Linked DNA regions of Homo sapiens. The protein of the gene in region 1 purifies or fractionates together with the protein of each later gene. This does not show direct contact. Each region holds a gene or a part of one and is shown in the gene's direction. Other genes may lie near its edges.

What was found.
Region 2: the proteins of BHMT2 (region 1) and INPPL1 purify together in Homo sapiens (affinity purification with mass spectrometry; 3 studies listed by BioGRID and IntAct, with this or other methods). This does not show direct contact.
Region 3: the proteins of BHMT2 (region 1) and GAPDHS purify together in Homo sapiens (affinity purification with mass spectrometry; one large-scale study listed by BioGRID and IntAct). This does not show direct contact.

What each region holds. Positions count from the first base shown.
Region 1 is NC_000005.10:79,068,626-79,072,695, forward strand, and holds the start of BHMT2 (S-methylmethionine--homocysteine S-methyltransferase BHMT2), read left to right. Parts: upstream 1-1,141; 5' UTR 1,142-1,157; coding exon 1,158-1,190; intron 1,191-4,070. Other genes in the region: DMGDH (dimethylglycine dehydrogenase, mitochondrial precursor), read right to left, coding at 895-995.
Region 2 is NC_000011.10:72,231,267-72,234,910, forward strand, and holds part of INPPL1 (phosphatidylinositol 3,4,5-trisphosphate 5-phosphatase 2), read left to right. Parts: intron 1-231; coding exon 232-349; intron 350-973; coding exon 974-1,070; intron 1,071-1,359; coding exon 1,360-1,498; intron 1,499-1,608; coding exon 1,609-1,708; intron 1,709-1,808; coding exon 1,809-1,897; intron 1,898-2,174; coding exon 2,175-2,256; intron 2,257-2,388; coding exon 2,389-2,478; intron 2,479-3,014; coding exon 3,015-3,128; intron 3,129-3,260; coding exon 3,261-3,349; intron 3,350-3,644. UniProt on the Homo sapiens protein: Phosphatidylinositol (PtdIns) phosphatase that specifically hydrolyzes the 5-phosphate of phosphatidylinositol-3,4,5-trisphosphate (PtdIns(3,4,5)P3) to produce PtdIns(3,4)P2, thereby negatively regulating the PI3K (phosphoinositide 3-kinase) pathways.
Region 3 is NC_000019.10:35,531,965-35,536,256, forward strand, and holds the start of GAPDHS (glyceraldehyde-3-phosphate dehydrogenase, testis-specific), read left to right. Parts: upstream 1-1,491; 5' UTR 1,492-1,563; coding exon 1,564-1,630; intron 1,631-4,292. UniProt on the Homo sapiens protein: May play an important role in regulating the switch between different pathways for energy production during spermiogenesis and in the spermatozoon. Required for sperm motility and male fertility.

The sequences.
Region 1 (4,070 bases):
CAGGTCATAGGACATAAAATAAAATTCGAATCAACTCATAATAATGTTGAGTGATGCTGATAAACAAGCCTTTCCTGGCAACCAGGAATAATCTACAAATATAAGAAGTCGAAAGATGTTCAGCATTGCTCATATTTAAATACAGACCAATCAAAACAAGGACATGCCATTTTTACCTATCAGATTTAGCAAAGATAACAAAATGGGCTATTCTGGGAACCAGGGAAGATGTGGGAAACAGACACACACTGGTGTGCCGCATGCAAACTCTTGCCACCCACTTGGAGAATGTGTTGCTGTCTTTCAATCTTTCAGATGCACGTAACCTTTTCCCTAACAAGTTCACCTTTAAAAACTGTTGCTACCGACTCCCATATGTACTCAAAGATAGATGCCTAAGAATTTTCACATGCACGTTATTTGCAGTAATAAACAACCAAAAACCATTTAAATGTTAATGAATAGACTAACGATAGTGTAGAATATTGACAGGATGGAAAACTATGCAGCCATTAAAAGGAACAAGGCAAGTCAGTGTGTGCTGATATGGAACAATCTCCAAGATATATTGATAATTGTAAAAAGCAAGATGTCAAAAAGCCAAAGGAAAACCTATACTGACCTGTGTTTGCCTATGCGTAGACTGTCTCTGGTTAGATTCAGAAGACACTATTAACAATTGTTCACTGGCCAAGGGGATTGGGGCAGGAGAGACTTTACACGGGGAACCTTTGGATACTGTTTCACTTTATAATTAAAAGATAATTCGAGAAGATATATCAAGGCCTATTTCTTGGAGGCCAGAGCGCTCCTAACCCCTGAGCCTGCCTCAGCCTCTGGCTCCCACCCCCGCAGCCGCCCCGTCGCCTCTGAGCAGGACGGGGCCCCACTCACCCTTCCCGGCCGCAGACAGAGCGCGGGCGCCCGGGGGAGCCCTGCAGCGGGCAGCTCCGCAGCAGGAGGCCCCGCAGCAGCTGCGCGCCGGGACGGAGCATGACTAGGCCGAGGCCGAGGGCGCAGGCGCCTGCTCCGAGGCCAGCGGGCAGCCTGAGGCCGCGGGGCCGGCGGGGCGGGGGTCGGATCCTCCCCCCGGGCTGGGGGCGGGCTCCTAGACGGCCGCGCGCCCGGGAACCCGGCGCCCACAGAGCCGCGGCACCATGGCACCTGCTGGACGCCCGGGGGCCAAGAAGGTGAGTTTCGTCCCCTCGATCCTCGCGGAGCTCCTGGCCGCTGGGCTGCGAGCGACTCCGTTCACACCCGGCGTCCATCCCTAGCCAAGCCCTGGGGCCTCGGCAAAACACTTGGACGGGATGGCCCTGAGCCTCAATTTTCCCCTGTCACGGGTTGGTTAGCGTTTATGGAGCCCTTACTCGGTGCCTGGCGCTGCACAGAGTGCTGTGCTCAAGTTATCTCCTCATCTTCACAATTATCCCCATTTCACAGGTGAGGAAACTGAGGCTCGGCGAGTCAGGCGACTAGCTCAGGGTCACGGGTCCAGCCCCGCGGGGAGCGAGGATCAGAAGTCTAGCTTTCGGACGCATGTCGCGCACACATTTTCTTCCCTCAACCGACCCTCGCCCGCAGCTCTTTGGGCTAATCCGTCCGGGAACTCTTCGGACTGTCCCCTCGCGTTTTGGAAAAGTCAGCAGCCTGGCCAAGCAGCCTGGCCTTGCGAGTCGCCGGCTGGTCTGAAACTAGTCCTGGGCAAGGACGCCCCCAGAGCTGCGGTGCAGGGTGGAGGGTAGGTGGGATTCGCTAGCACCCCTCAACCTCCTCTCACCCGGTGGTCCCCAGCTCCTGGCCCCTTTCCTGGTCTGGTCACCAGATGTTGGCTTTATGCCCAGCCATTTCTACGTCGAGTATGTGTGGGGGTGGGATGAAGGAGTGACTAAGCAAAATTAGGAAGGGCATGAGCTTGGACGAAAGACATCCCCAGGACCCTTCAGAGACCCCCACCCGCTCCAGCCCTGTCATTCAGAATGGGAGGAAGGGAGGAGGGGCAGTTTATGCGTGGAAATGTGCACCACCGAGCTATTTATACTAAAAAGTTAGAAACGACCAAGATACTCTGCAATACGGGATTCTAAATAAATTAAGGTTCATCTACTTAAGTTATTAGACAGTTAAATAACTTAGTATGAGAACCAGCTAAGTGCCTTGGCAATGTTAAGTTGCAAAAGGAAATATATCACAAACTGATCCCAACCATATACAAATATTTATATACACACTGTAAGGAAGGACACAATAATGGTAATAGTTACACAAGATGTGGAATATTGGTTTAAAAAGCATGTTTTAGGATATTTTTTCAGGTTATAAAAGCAAAATGTGAGCATTGAAAGAATACAGTTAATAAAAATAATCAAAGAACATTGTGCTTTTTTCTCTCAACTTTCTCTAATGCTATGTTCATCTTTACAGTTCATATTTTTAAACGTTTTTAAAATGCCCTGTTTTTGTTCAGTGTCTTTGGGGCCTCTACTGTTACAACACCAAGATTATCACACACTAATCCATGTGAATGTGTACCTGGGAGTTAAGGTGTTAATGGGAAGGAACTAATCTCACCTCTCTCCTCAGCTAGCAGGTACATTTTAAGAATTCATTTAATTGCCACAGACAAGACCTCCAATTAGGTCTTAAATCCAAAAGAGCAGTTCTGCTGGCAAATCTAGGAAAAGGGGAAGTTATTTTAGACAGACTGGGTTTTTCTGATCACCTCCTACTACACAGTGAAGTTGATCCCCACTGAGTATGAATAGAGATGTCTTGAAGCCAGATCTTAAACCCAGAGGTCTTACGTAGTGATATCTGCAAAAAGGGGGCATAAATGCACCCTAGAGCTCGCTGTCAGATGCAAGGCAGGTTCACTGCCAAACTGATGGGGAGGAGGGAATGAAAATATAAATGTACTGCAAAATTAATTTACAGGGTTCCTTATTTTACATGTTCCTGTCTTTATAATTTTACAGTTGACTTTAGATCGTACTAGTATAATGGTGAGGAACAACACACACTGGGGCCTATCGAAGGGTGGAGGGTGGAAGGAGGGAGAGGATCAGGAAAAATAACTAATGGATACTAGGCTTAATACCTGGGTGAGGAAATAACCCATATAGCAAACCTCCAATGATGCACATTTACCTGTGTAACAAACCTGCACATCCTGCACATGTACCCCTGAACTTAAAAGTAAAAAAAAAAAAAAAAAAAAAAACTAAAGAAGGGATCATACTGGTATAGTAATTAATTGAGGTAGTTAGAATAGCAGTGAAGGAAGGGCTAAAAGATGCTCTGATCTCAAATCTTGATAACTTAGTTATTTTGCTAATGGCTATGTAGAAAAATGGCAAATTGGCCGGGCACAGTGGCTCACACCTGTAATCCTAGCACTTTGGGAGGCCGAGGCAGGCAGATCATCTAAGGTCAGGAGTTCGAGACCACACTGGACAACATGGTGAAACCCTGTCTCTACTAAAAAATACAAAATTAGCTGGGCATGGTGGCATGCACCTATAATCCCAGCTACTTGCGAGGCTGAGGCAGGAGAATTGCTTGAACCCTGGAGGTGGAGGTTGCAGTGAGCTGAGATCGCGCTACTGCACTCCAGCCTGGGCGACAAGAGTGAAACTCTGTCTCAAAAAAAAAAAGAAAGAAAAGAAAAGAAAAATGGCAAATTTAAAATGGTGGACAAACATCCAGATAACAAATGAAAATGTCCTCCCTTTACTTGGTTTCATAAAGACACAGTCAAAATATATACTACAATTTTCTTAAAACCTACCTAATTGTCTGCTAAAGAGTAACATTTTTTCTTCTTCAGGACAAAAATTCTAGCATATGCAATACATCTGACATTTTCAAAACAGTCCTGTTTATTTGCTAATTCTTGGCATAGTTTCTTAAGTGTCTACTCATTTTAGTTGTTATATGTGGTGGTAGGGATATAGACCAATAAGATATGTCACCTGCCCCCAAGCCTCTTACAGTCAAACTGAGGTGACAAGTAAGTAACCAGATACTGCTGTACAGGGGGATGCATGAATGAAGGATCTGTGAAGTTAAGC
Region 2 (3,644 bases), on another chromosome or scaffold:
CCCTGGGAGCACAGCTTCACTGGCTTTTTCTCTGGTCCCTGAGCATATCCTTTGGGAGATCTGACCTGAGTCCTTCATGCCACGAGAGGAACCATTTCTCTCCAGTCCGTCAGGAAGAGGGGTGGCAAGCCTTCCTACCCTGTGATGGACACAAAAGTCTATTTATAGTGCAGGGGGAAATGCAGGCAGTGGGTGCAGCAGGGCAGTGGTGACCATGCACTCTCTACCCAGATTGCCATGCAATCACTGTGGAATATCAAGGTGGCAGTGCTGGTCAAGCCAGAGCACGAGAACCGTATCAGCCATGTCAGTACGTCCAGTGTGAAGACTGGCATCGCCAACACCCTGGGTAAGTGGGGCTGGCAGGTGCCCAAGAGTGGCAGCGTCTCTCTGTCCATGGCTTCTGCTTCCTCTCAAGCCTAGGATTGCCCCATTTTTGGTGATCTTAGTTTCCCCATATATAGGGTACTTTGAACTTTGAAAAACATATTCATATTCTAAATCTCTCCCAGCACCACTGGGAAGGCAAGGCCAGGATAATTACCCCCTTTTCACAGATGATAAAACTCAAACCCAGAGTGGTTGAGTGACCTGCCCAAGGTCACACAGCAAGTAAGTGGTGGAGCCAGGCATTGTGCCCAGGTCTCCTGATTTTCGGTCTGGTGCTCTCCCAGGTAGATTCTGCGCAGAATCTGCAGGGCCTTTCAGCTTCACCCTTGGGGTCCCCTGTGATCTCCAGGGGCTCTGCTCACACATACAGACAGACTCAGGCCATCCACACAGACCATGTGTGCCCAATGAGGACCCCCCCCTCCCCCAGGGAAGGTGTGGGTGTGTGCAGGGGCCTGCCCATGTCACAGCGTCTGGTGGGCTCAGCGGGAGGATCCTCTCACTGCAGCTTTGAGAGGCAGAAGGGAGAGTTGGGAGCCCTCTGAGGATGACCCAGGCCTTCCTCTCTTGCTTGCCTTAACAGGGAACAAGGGGGCTGTGGGCGTCTCCTTCATGTTTAATGGCACCTCATTTGGCTTTGTGAATTGTCACCTCACCTCGGGAAATGAGAAGACGGCTCGGTGAGGGGGCGCCTTTCCCATGGTCTCTTTACACCCATCCCATTCACCTGAGGCCTGTTCCCGCTCCCATACCCTAGCCCATGACCCTCCCGCAGGCCTGTCTCCAGAGACCCCCTGCTCTCTTATCCCAATTCAAGACCCTTCTGTTCCTGACCCTAACCTTGTCCCCAGGGGCCCGGATCTTTACCCCATCCCTGACTCCTGAGACTTCTTCCCTTTATGCCTATCCCTGACTTCTGGCCCTGACCCTGGGGATCTACCCCTCCCCACCACGCACCCCTCACCCTAGGAGGAACCAAAACTACTTGGACATCCTGCGGCTGCTCTCGCTGGGCGACCGGCAGCTCAATGCCTTTGACATCTCTCTGCGTTTCACACACCTCTTCTGGTTTGGGGACCTCAACTACCGCCTGGACATGGATATCCAGGTGCGAGCAGGGCCCTGCCATGGCTGTAGGGAGGCTAAGGGCCACATGGGCTATCACCCCTGGCTCTGGCTCCGGAGGAATGTTTCTAGCCTTTGTGTCCTCCACCCCAGGAGATCCTGAACTACATCAGCAGGAAAGAGTTTGAGCCCCTCCTCAGGGTGGACCAGCTCAACCTGGAGCGGGAGAAGCACAAGGTCTTCCTTCGATTCAGTGAGTGTGGGCCTGGTAGGTGGTGATCTGAGGGCTAGGAGACTTGCAGTATCCCTGGGTGTCAGGGCCCTGAACCCCACCTGTCTCCTGCTTTCCTTAGGTGAGGAGGAGATCTCCTTCCCACCCACCTACCGCTATGAGCGGGGTTCCCGGGACACATATGCCTGGCACAAGCAGAAGCCAACTGGGGTGAGCCAAGAAAACGGCATGGGCCTTGGGGGACCGCAGGCCTGCGATGAATCAAGAATTTGGGTCAAGGGTATGGGCCTCTGCAGCTTCCACTCCAGCCTCCATGGCCCCTCTGAGGCCTTTGGGTGATCCTGGGTATTTTGAGGATCCAAGAAGGGAGGTGGGTGCTAGGGCCTCTAGTAATAGAAGTGTGGGGACTCATCAGCTCTGGAGTGGGGTCCATGCCAAGCAGCCTCCTAGCTGTCAGCTCTAACCATGCTGCCATCCCCTGCCCCAGGTCCGGACCAATGTGCCCTCATGGTGTGACCGGATTCTGTGGAAATCCTACCCTGAAACTCACATCATCTGCAATTCTTATGGTCAGAGCCTCCCGGACAGAGTGATGGGAGATCTGGGGTGGTCACCATCTGGACTCTGCCCTAACCTTGGGAGGTGGGAGCCGAGGGTGGGAATATTCCCCCTGAGTCCCCATTCCTATCCCCTCTCCCCAGGTTGCACTGATGACATCGTCACCAGCGACCATTCCCCCGTGTTTGGGACATTTGAGGTTGGAGTTACCTCCCAGTTCATCTCCAAGAAAGGTGACTGTTCCAGATATGCTTGTGGGTGTGGCATAATCTAGGTGGGCACAGGTGGTGGCCTCGGGATGTACATAGGTTTGACTATGTAAGTGTGTGTGTGGGTGTGTGTACCAGTGAGTGCAGGAGTGTTTCTCAAGGTGTGATGTGTCAGGGTGTCTGTGCGCCTGGGCCATCACAAGAGTTGTGTGCCCATGAGTGTGTGTGCATACGTGAGTGTACACCTATCTATGTGTCTGTGTCTGTCTAGGGCCACGTGTGTGTCCCTGAGTATGCCTGTAGGTGTGGGAATCCTGCAGGCATTCTGGTCCCCAGCACCCTCTTCAATGGGTTTTTTATCCTTGGGTTGTCTCTTTGCTCTGGTCCAGGGTCTGGCCTCTGGAGATTCCCTGTTGGTGGCTTGGGACTGGGGAGGCCCCTCCTGGCCCTGCCTCCTTGCTCTGGACCCCTGATTTCCTGTCCCAGGGCCCTGTTTCTCTGTCCCATTCCTCCTGTGATCCTCTCAGTCCTCCTGTTTGTTCTCCTCCCTTTCTCCTCAGGGCTCTCAAAGACTTCAGACCAGGCCTACATTGAGTTTGAGAGCATCGAGGCCATTGTGAAGACAGCCAGCCGCACCAAGTTCTTCATCGAGTTCTACTCTACCTGCCTGGAGGGTCAGAGGCGTGGCAGGGGCTGGGTGTGGGCCAAGGAGGATGGGAGGCAAGAGGGTGCAGTCAGCCCCCTACTTAGGGGGAAAGGAAGCTGAGAGGTGGTGCTCAGTTGGGTGTCTCCCACCCCCACCCCAGAATACAAGAAGAGCTTTGAGAATGATGCCCAGAGCAGTGACAACATCAACTTCCTCAAAGTGCAGTGGTCTTCACGCCAGCTGCCCACGGTGAGGCTGTGGGCAGGGCCCCTGCTTATGGGTGAGGGCACAGAGAGGGGTACATAAGAGTTTATTGGAGAGCCTGCCTGGGAGGGAGTGTGGGGCCAGCAGAGAGAGAGAGAGAGAGTGTGTGTGTGTGTGTGTGTGTGTGTGTGTGTATGGGCATGGGCATGAGTGAGGATAAAGGCGTTTGCTTTATTTTGGGAGTGTGGAACCTTGTTGCAGTTTGTTCATTCATTCAGGAGATGCTTCTTGAGCTTTTGCTAGATGTCAGGTCCTGTGTTAGCTATTGAGAAAATTAATT
Region 3 (4,292 bases), on another chromosome or scaffold:
GGCGGGAGAATCACTTGAACCCAGGAGGCGGAGGTTGCGGTGAGCTGAGATCGCACCATTGCACTCCAGCCTAGGCAACAAGAGCGAAACTCTGTCTCAAAAAAAAGAAAAGAAAAGAAAAGATTAGCGATCAGATGAAACCTGAGGAATTGACATTTATTCATTCAGGTATAGTTTATTGGGCTAACGCCTTTTTCAGACAGGGTCTTGCTCTGTCTCCCAGCTGGAGTGCAGTGACACAATCACAGCTCACTGCAGCCTTGACCTCCTAGGCTCAAGTGATCCTCCCACCTCAGCCTCCCTAATAATTGGGACAACAGGCATGCACCACCACACCTGGCTACTTTTTTTATTTTTTGTAGATACAGGGTTTTGCCACATTGCCCATGTTGGTCTCAAACTCCTGGACTCAAATGATCCTCCCACCTCAGCCTCCCAAAGTGTTGGGATTACAGGCATGAGCCACTGCGTCCAGCCCACAAACACCTTTCAGGTGCCAAACACTTTTCTTGTCAATGGGATACAGAAGTGACATAGATGACGTCCCTGTCCTCTCAGAGCTTACAGTCTGGTGGACAGAGACAGTTGGCAAGAAAACAAACAATTTTTAGAGAGACATGTGCTCTAAGGAAAATAAAAACATAGACAGTGTAGCCCTAGAGAAATTTTGCACACTGAAGCATAACTCAGAATGGAGAAGTCAGACAAGGCTTCCTGGAAGATGGGCAGAAATTGGGAAGGGGGTGACGGCTGACAGTGACAGAGAAAGGAGGGAACTTAGATGCAGAGTGTAGAAAGCCTCTCTTAAAGGGTGGGAAACCAAGAGGCAGCCAAGGGAAGCCCTGGGTGGGCCTTCCAGGCATACGGAGGCAGCAAGAGTCACTCCACTGGAGAATCCAAGGGACAGCATGGAACCTGTGTGCTTCAAGAGACAGAGAAGAGGAAAGGGCTTTCAGGAACAGTGTAAAAGGTGGGATTCCAGGCTGGGTGTGGTGGCTCGCTCCTGTAATCCCAGCATTTTGGAAGGCCGAGGTGGGAGGATCGCTTGAGCCCAAGGGTTCTAGACCAGCCTGAGCAAAAGAGTGAGACCCTCTCTCTACAAAAAAATAAAAAGTAAAAATAGCCTGCAGTGGTGGCTGCACATGTAGTCCCAGCTACTCAGGAGGCCGAGGCGGGAGGATCGCTTGAGCCCAGGAGTTCAAGGCTGCAGTGAGCCATGATTGCACCACTGCACTCCAGCCTAGGAGAAAGAGTGACACCCCGTCTCAAAATAAATAAACAAATGATAATTTTAAAAAGTGGGATTCCATTCCAGACGGCAGTGCGTGGCCGTGGAACGGTGATGCATAGCGTGCTGACGTCCCATGCCTCTACGGGGATGGGATGCGATGGTGTCAGGCCTCTGGCTTGGGCGCCGCCCCTCGGCGACGTCACTGGGTACTGTGACGTCACTGGGTGCTGTGACATCAGGGCAATTAGCCCAGGACCCACAGCCCTGGCGCTCCGCACGCACCTCGGTAACATCACAGCAGGTCCAGGCCAATGATAACCTTATAAGAGGCCATGTCGAAGCGCGACATCGTCCTCACCAATGTCACCGTTGTCCAGTTGCTGCGACAGCCGTGCCCGGGTGAGGGAGGCAGCGGAGGGCGCGGGGGAGGGGTGGAAAGGGTAGTGGGGAGCGTCTGCACCCTCACACCTGTGCCGTATCCCTACCGCCCTTCCTGGCGTGTGCACCATCTAGGGACCAGGGGATCAGCCGCTCTCCCTCCCTCCACACCCGCCAGTGTGCTGGCAGAGTGGGGTTTACTGCCATGGCGGGGAGACCGGGCCTCCGCCCCCAGGGCTGGGTGGGCTTCGCGCCGCTATCACGCGGTAGAAAGAGCAGAAACGAGGGCCATCGGAGGCTGCAGCCTGAAAGTGGCGGGAAGTGGGCGGGCTTAGGAGGGGCTTAGGGAGAACCCAGGGGTGCTGGGCTTCCATGTAAAAGTGATGTTCATGGCGCTTCGCGTGAGGTGAGCTTTGCCCTCCCTGTGATGCACAAAACAAGGACACTTGGAACCTTGCCGGGGACGTGCTGACCACTTCGCAGGCGAGAGCTCAGGGAAGCCTCACCACCACCTGAGAAGGCCAGAGTGTGCCCGCAGTTTACAGAGCGGCCAACAGAGGTTAAGAGAGGGCAAACTACTTCCTTAGTCTCTCAACAAGGGCGGCGCGCCCGCGCGCGCGCACACACACACACACACACTCACTCACTCACTCTAGCCGGAGGAACCAGGTCTTCCGGTGGGCTGCCTCCATTCCCACACTGTTCCCTCACTTCCCAAGGGCGGGGGCCGCAGGGGTAGGTGGGGCTGGGGCTTTGGTCCAGGAGACCCTGGAAGACACAGGAGCAGACAGGCTTACCAGCCTCATGAGACTTGAACCCCTGCCCTGCGCATCACTGCTCCGTGGCCTCAGGCTTCATTTTCCCCTCTGTAAAGTGGGTTTATAGCGCATGCCTCTCGGGATTCAGTGGGAGGACGCAGTGAGGAGCTGGGGGCAGCACCCAGCTAGCCCCCAGGCTTTTCTCCAACCGGGGGACCCCACCCCTACAGTGGAGGGGAAGAGAGTGCAAGGCTGGGAGTGCTGGGAGAGGAGGACCATCTGAGTTTTCTTCGGAAGGGTCACCCATTGGGCTCAGATTCCCACCTGAACCAGGTGGACAAATCCCCTTTCTCCCATAGCAGAAACAACCCCCAAGGATGCAAACATCCTCAAGTTCACCAATAAACACTAACACCTTCATGAACTTGGACAGCCACTGGAAACACCTATAGTCCAGCCTCAGGCCACAAGGTCTGTGGCAACAGGGAGAGGTCAGGGAGACAGACAGGCCAGCTGGCCCCCGGCTCCCAGCCCCACCACCCCCCAGGTGCCTTTGATTTGGTGCCAAAAACTTGGACTCCCACTACCCCCTTCCAGCCCTTCTCCACCCCCTGCTGTCTCCCTTTCCTCAGGAATCTGTGTAGGATCAGACTTCCCTCCTCTATTAAAATCAGCTCCTATGTGTGGGCCTCGAGATCTCACTGCGCCCTCACAGCAGCCCCTAGGTGGGGGATCAGCCCCAAGAGGTTCATTAACTTGCTCAAATCCACAGAGCAGCAGGTCTGTGTGGACTGAGCCAGGCTTGACTTTCCAGCTTGAAACTCTCTGCCACCAGGTCCCCTGAGTCTCCACTTCTCCCCTCTTCTCAAGCCCTCCTCTGTAGCTCAGGCGGCTGCTACCTCCAGGCGCAGGTGTTTTTAAGTGCAGTCTGGGAGCAGGAGTGTGTGTGGAGAGGTGGGAGCCAATGTGAGCTTCCATGGGTTTCACAGAGTATGATACACGGTACTCTCTAAGCTTCCCTGAGGATAAGAAATGCCTGGAGTGCTTATTTTATTTTTTATTTTTTTTTGGGAGATGGAGTTTCGCTCTTGTTGCCCAGGCTGGAGTGCAGTGGCACGATCTCGCCCACCACAACCTCCGCCTCCTGGGTTCAAGCGATTCTCCTGCTTCAGCCTCCTGAGTAGCTGGGATTACAAGCATGTGCCACCACGCCTGGCTAATTTTTTTGTATTTTTAGTAGAGACGGGGTTTCTGCATGTTGGTCAGACTGGTCTCAAACTCCCAACCTCAGGTGATCTGCCTGCCTCGGCCTCCCAAAGTGCTGGGATTACAGGCGTGAGCCACCGCTCCCGGCCTGGAGTGCTGATTAAAAACAGGATTTCTGGGCCTCCATACAGACCCACTGAGTCCGATTTTTCTAGGAAGAGCCCTCCTCAGGTGATTTTTTTTTTTTTTTGAGACAGAGTCTCACTCTGTCGCCCAGGCTGGAGTGCAGTGGCGCAATCTCGGCTCACTGCACCCTCCGCCTCCCAGGTTCAAGAGATTCTCTTGCCTCAGCCCCCCGAGGAGCTGGGATTACAGTATTTTTAGTAGAGAACAGGTTTCTCCATGTTGGCCAAGCTGGTCTTGAACTCCTGACCTCAAGTGATCCACCCACCTTGGCCTCCCAAAGTGCCAGGATTACAGGTGTGAGCCACCACGCCTGGCCACTCCGACGACTCCTATCATGGAACAGTTTGGGGACCACTGGGCTAAATCAATTATTGGACAAATTCGGGGAACAATCTACAAAATACTAATGCATGTCAAACATTTCCTCGGCTTGGTCATAAGCAATCCATGTATTACCTCATTTAATCCTCACAACAACCCTCTAAGAAAAGTACTATTATCTCCCCTTACAGAGGAGGAAACTGAGGCACAGA